Regions from separate parts of the Homo sapiens genome. Here region 2 is linked to region 1. The links come from fine-mapping of genetic effects on gene expression. A gene starts in region 1. The other region holds a variant in brackets. All regions are shown on one strand. Distances are from middle to middle.

What was found. PIP is the estimated chance that this variant, and not a neighbour inherited with it, causes the effect.
Region 2: its variant is the best candidate, but not a certain one, in a credible set for the expression of NCR3LG1 in monocytes after LPS (Fairfax 2014, PIP 0.87).

The regions. Positions count from the first base shown.
Region 1 is chr11:17,350,420-17,353,226 of GRCh38, reverse strand. NCR3LG1 (natural killer cell cytotoxicity receptor 3 ligand 1) reads right to left here and starts at 1,427. Exons shown (of 5, transcript NM_001202439.3): 1 at 1,188-1,427. The coding sequence starts at 1,257. It overlaps LOC105376576 (a long non-coding RNA gene), which reads left to right and starts at 1,361. Exons shown (of 3, transcript XR_931094.3): 1 at 1,361-1,448; 2 at 2,053-2,190; 3 at 2,316-2,414. RefSeq lists enhancers at 12-61, 286-887, 888-1,489 and a silencer at 1,486-1,605.
Region 2 is chr11:17,399,142-17,401,948 of GRCh38, reverse strand. The region is part of intron 29 of ABCC8 (ATP binding cassette subfamily C member 8); the gene reads left to right. Among named protein-coding and RNA genes, the nearest start is that of KCNJ11, 12 kb to the right of the region's middle. The variant T/C (reference allele first, on the strand shown) is at 1,636.

The DNA of each region.
Region 1 (2,807 bases):
TTTGTTCTCTTTAAGGCTGTATCTTCTGTTTCTCAAACTGTGGAAATGGTATTGCATTGTATGTCCACTGTTTACTTGGCTCTACGCCTTCAACATCCGTTCACGCTGCTCGGCAAGCAGCAAGGGCGTGGTGTGAAGCTGCCGCCAAGGTCTCCACGGTGAGGTCCACACGCGGCTCTCCTCCACCTGCAGTGACTCGGGGCGCCCAGAGCGCGCCTCCGGGATTCCTACATTCCACCTCCACCACCCGGCACCCAGGAGCGTATTTTGGCCAGCCTAGTAAGGGTCAAGCAGCATCTTGTTGTTTAATTGCCATTCTTCTAGTTAGAAATGAGTTTAAATATCTCTACATACGCGTTTCAGCCTTTTAGTCTCCTGTTTAAGTTAACGCAGAACACGCCCATACGAGTTCCCAAAAAAGCAAGAGAACGTTTGAAGGTCACCACAAGATCAAAACACTCCCCTCCCTCTCTCAGTAAAGACCTAACTTAGCAAAGCCAGGAGGACCCACTGATATGCGGATGAATGATTTTTCCAATTTACCGATTCCCTGATTTTCTTCTCTCCTCCGGCCCCTCGGATGATGCGAGAGAGGCGCCAAATACCGAGGCACCAAACGCGCGACATCCAAGGAAGCACCGTTTCCGCTCTCACAGGTGTCGACCCTGCACAGGGCAGGCCTTCAATGTAAACCTGTTGCATCGGGGACTCCGCTTCTCACAAAGGAGGGACGCTTGAAAATAGAGCCCCCAGGCCGGGCGCGGGGGCTCACGCCTGTAATCCCCGCACTTTGGGAGGCCGAGGCGGCTGGATCACTAGGTCAAGGAGACCATCTTGGCTAACACTGTGAAACCCCGTCTCTACTAAAAGTACAAAAAATTAGCCGGGCATGGTGGCGGGCGCCTGTGGTCCCAGCTACTCGGGAGTCTGAGGCAGGAGAATGGCGTGAACCTGGGAGGCGGAGCTTGCAGTGAGCCGAGATCGCGCCACTTCACTCCAGCCTGGGAGACAGAGCGAGACTCCGTCTCAAAAAAAAAAAAAAAAAAAAAGGAGAAGAAATAGAAAAGAAAATAGAGCTCTCAGCCCCCAGGAAGTTGAGGTCCCCTGGCGGGATGCTAGGGAGCCGACCCGCGAGGACCCTCTGGCGCCAGGAGCCCCCGCCCCAGCCCACCCCAGCCGCCCCCTACCTTCGGTCGTCAGCGCCCACAGCAGAATCAGGAGCGCCGCGCACGTGGAGGCGGCAGCCCTCCACGTCATCGCCGCGGCTGCTGTTGTGTAATTTTTTTCGCCGAGTGGGAGCAGGCGGCCCGGTAGAAACCAAGGGCAGGGGGAGACCTCTGTTGCGTAAAGAGTTGACGGAGACACAGCCGGGATTTCCAGCCGGCGCTTTTGCACATCCCACTTCTTCAGATCCCTTCGGCAACTGCGAAGTCGCCTGGATTTCCCAGGTTCGCACTGCAGGAAGCCAGGCGCGTGACCAGCCCCACCCGCGCCGCACTTTAGCCCGGGGGCGGGCACCGGCCGGGGAATCCTCCCTCGCCTCCGCCCGCGGCACGAGGTTGCGCGGTTACAGCCCCGGTGCCTCTCGCGAGCGGCTCTGCGGTCCAGGACTCGGGGCATCCTCTGGGTTCGCTTAGTAAATTGAGACCGGGATCCAAGTGGCCCGGGGCGCTGCTCTAAGGAAGATGCTGACCGCAGTCGGTGATTGCGAGAGCAGGTGCACGCGTCCAGAGCGACATCTTACCGTTGGCGCGATAAACTTACATTACTTTAAAAACCAAAAACAACAAAAATTTAGCATTAAGTCGAAAGGCAAATTAAATCCCCAGGACAATTCAGTTAAACGCCTGAAGGTGGCCCTTAATTTCCCATTTCTACTAATCAAGAAGTGGCTTGCGACCTCCTGAAGCAAACCCAAATATTCTCATTCGGTGATTAAGTTTTACCACCTCTACACCAGTTTTTAAATCAATTTAACCGCAAAGTTCAGAACCCAAGTGGCACAGTAAATGTGTGTGCATTTATAACGCAGAACCTGCATTCTTTCCCCAGCAACCTGCATTCCATTTGTCTCATTGACCCTACTGCATTTTTCCTTCGCATCATTAAAAAGGATGTAATGTACAGAAAAGCACAGACAGACCTAAACTCCAATGCCAACCATGCCATCTGCTGATTATAAGACAGTGGGTAAGTGACCTCATATCCCCAGCCTGTTCACATGTCTCTAAAACTGAGAGAGTAAAAGCTTCCTTTCCAGGGTTAGAGACACTGTCACTGACTAAGCAAATAGTCACATTCTCACTTATCTGCAGAACAGAGTGCATACAGAAAGAGCTCAGAAGTGAAAGATGCGCAGAGTGCCCACAGTGGCAGCAACTAGCTGAGGGGCCTTCAGATCGCAGCCTTCCGGACCACCGTTATAACAGGTAGAGATATGCAAGGTTAAGTCCAGCTATTGAATTTTTAAAACCTAAATTACACCTCTTCTCAACCTCTGCCTCCTCCAAGGAGCCTTACCTGAGGAGACATCCTTGTCTGGTATTAGTGACATCATTAAATAACATTCCCAATGGAGGTATATGACGACTTCTTATACATGCCCAGAATAGTGATTCACAAAGTTGTGACACATACACATCACCCTGTAGAAATTATCAAATTACTCTTTTGGTAATTTTTACTGTTTTGGTAATTTTTTTGTACCCTTTTTACTCTAAAGGGTAAAACCGGCAGGTTTCTCTATTTATATTTCATTAGAATGAAAAGTCATTACCTGTGTTTTCGTTTTTACCAATATCATGTCT
Region 2 (2,807 bases), 49 kb before region 1:
TCCGGGAAGGTTTTTGTACCAGAGGTGTCATCAGAACTAGGACTCAAAGGAGGGGCAGGAGTTCACCAGGCTGAGGAATTCCTGAAAACTTCAGTGCCCCTGCCATCGTCTCACTACCCTGAGTGGTGATGTTGGGGTGGACAGGAGCATCTGAGGTTGCCTGGGGAATGAGGGAAGCTGTTGTTTCCCACTCCCCAAGAGTCTGTCTGATCTCCAGAGGCATCTCTCTTCCAGTCAGGCAGGCCAGAGACCCCTGACACACAAAGTTGGGCTCTTTTCTCATCTTCATCCAGAGAGTGATAATAGGTTATTTTTAGGGTGGCACAGCTGCACGAAGTATGACAGTAACCATGAGACACCAAGCACTGTGTCCAGGAGTAACCATAGGGCACAAGGACCAGCCAAGGGCCAGAGAGGCTTACATCTCCTCCCCCCAACCCCTGAAGTCCAGCTTCAGCCCTGGAGAGGTATCCAGGCCCCTCTGCCCACCCTGGAGCACCTAGGGCCAGTGGAAATCCACCTCTTAGGGATCTTGTCTAAGTAAAGAAGAGCAGAGCAAAGCTCTGCCCTGGCCTTGGCGCTGCTCCCTGGACATCCCTTGCCCCTGGACAAGCCTATGCTGTGTCTTCCACAAAGAAGCTTGCTGGGGACTGGATTATGACTCTAGAGTCTCCTCCCAGCCTCCTCTTCTCAAGCCTGAACTTCTCCCGTTCCTTCAACTTCCAGGTCCCTCGACATTACTGAGCCTAGCCTTTGCTCTAAGTTTTGGTGATTTCCCTCTCTCAATTGGTGTCTCAGAGGGCCCTGGGGTAGAGAGATGGTGACTCTTCTAGAGTGGGCCACAGCCCCTTGTGTGCAGATCCCAGCTTCCTGTAAACAGCCTCAGATCAGGCCAAACCTGTGGTCAGCCAGAGCCACTGCTACCCAGTGAGGTCTTCCACACCCTACTGACACGGTGAATGATTTTTAAATTTGAATGAAAGGCTTTTTAATCAACCCCATACACATTTAATGCATTGGCTTTAATCCAGCAGCCTGTTGAGAGCTATTAGCACTTATTGATTGCCCACTTACTGTATGCCAGGCACCGTGCTAAGTGTTGTATGTGCATTATTACATTTAATCCTCACAAGGACCACATAACATAGGTACGAATCGCCACATTCTCCAGATGCAGAAGCGAGACCCAGAGAGGCTGGGTAATCAATCCAAGGTCACACAGACTGCGGGGGCTGGCGCTGAGCTTGGAACCCAGGTTTGCCTGACCTTCTGGGCTTTCCTAAGAGATCTTATTTTTTCCCAAAAGAGTTTCAAGAGTGCCCAGCACTGGGCTCAGTGGCGGGCTCGGAGGTTGTTTTCGTTCATGTAGGAACTATCACTTCCCCATTTTTTTCATAAGAAAACTGAGTCTCAGTCCTGATACACAGCCAGGAAGTTGTGATGTTCAGGCTCCAACCTGGGTTTACATGGCTCCGAGGCTGGGGCTCTTTTCTAGTCCTCAGACACACTGTCGCACGCCTGTGGCAGAAGCTCCCATCTCACACTTGCCGACCCTCAACTCACACAGTCCTGAGACCCACATACGCTGAGCGCCTCACACTCCTATAACACGCACATGCCCTGATGCACACACAT[T/C]TTCAACACGCACTTACTCTACCCTTCAGGCATGGTTTCACACTCACTGCAGACACGTCACCCTCCCACACGTCTCCACCCTGGGGGTGTGCAGTAGCATGCTCTCTCCCACCTCAGAACCTCCCTTCAGTCCCCTCAGACACATGCCCTCTCTCCACGCAGAGACAATCAAAGCTGAACTAACACCTTCCAGGGTGAAAAGCAAATGCCCAGTAAGGTACGTCTTGGGTGCCTCCGTGTCCCCTGAGTTTGGTCCTATCAAACCAGCGATGATGAGGCAGCTTTTCTTTCGTTCCTTCCTCCATCATCAAACAAGTGCTCCTGCATCTCCTCTGGGCCGGGCCTACGTCAGCAAGGTCTGAGGGAAGCGGCCAAGGAGAGTGATGACGGCAGCCCAGGTTGATCAGAGAAAGGAGGCAGGTCCATGCGCAGTAACTCAGGGAAAACATGATGAGGACCTAAGGATGAGAAAGAAGCCTCCAGAGTTCCCTGTGCAGAGAGATTCCATCAATTTCAGAGGGTCAGGGGAGTGCCATGCATTCATCCAACAAATATTTATTGATAGTGCCAGGTGCTGGGGTATATTGGTGAATAAAACATCTTCATGGAATTTGCAGTCTATTGAGGGAGATGATTATAAATAGCTAGAGAAATGCATGTACAGCAGATACTGTGGAGCAAACAGGTTGCAGACAATAATAGGGGAAACCTACTTTATAGTAAGGTAGTAGCCAGGAAGAGCCTCTCTGAGGAGGCAGCATTTAAGGCAAGCCCTGAAGGTTGAGTTGAGCCAGCCTTATGAAGAGCAAGGGCAAAAGCCTTCCAGGAAAAGGGAATAGTGTGTGCAAAGGCCCTGGGGTAGGGAAGACTTTAGTATTGTCACAGAGCTTTTAAAAAGCTGAGTGGCTGCAGCATAGTGTGTGGGGTGTTTGTGGCAGGAATTAGGTTGGCAGGAGGGGGTTCTTCATCCTATAAGCAGTGGAAGGTCATTAATATTCTTTTTTATTTGTTTTTTTTTTTTTTTTTTTTTTTTTTTTTGAGGCAGAGTCTCACTTTGTCACCCAGGCTGGAGTGCAGTGAGGTGATCTTGGCTCACTGCAACCTCCACCTCCCGGGTTCAAGCAATTATCCTGGCTTCCTCAGCCTCCCAAGTAGCTGGGATTACAGGTGTG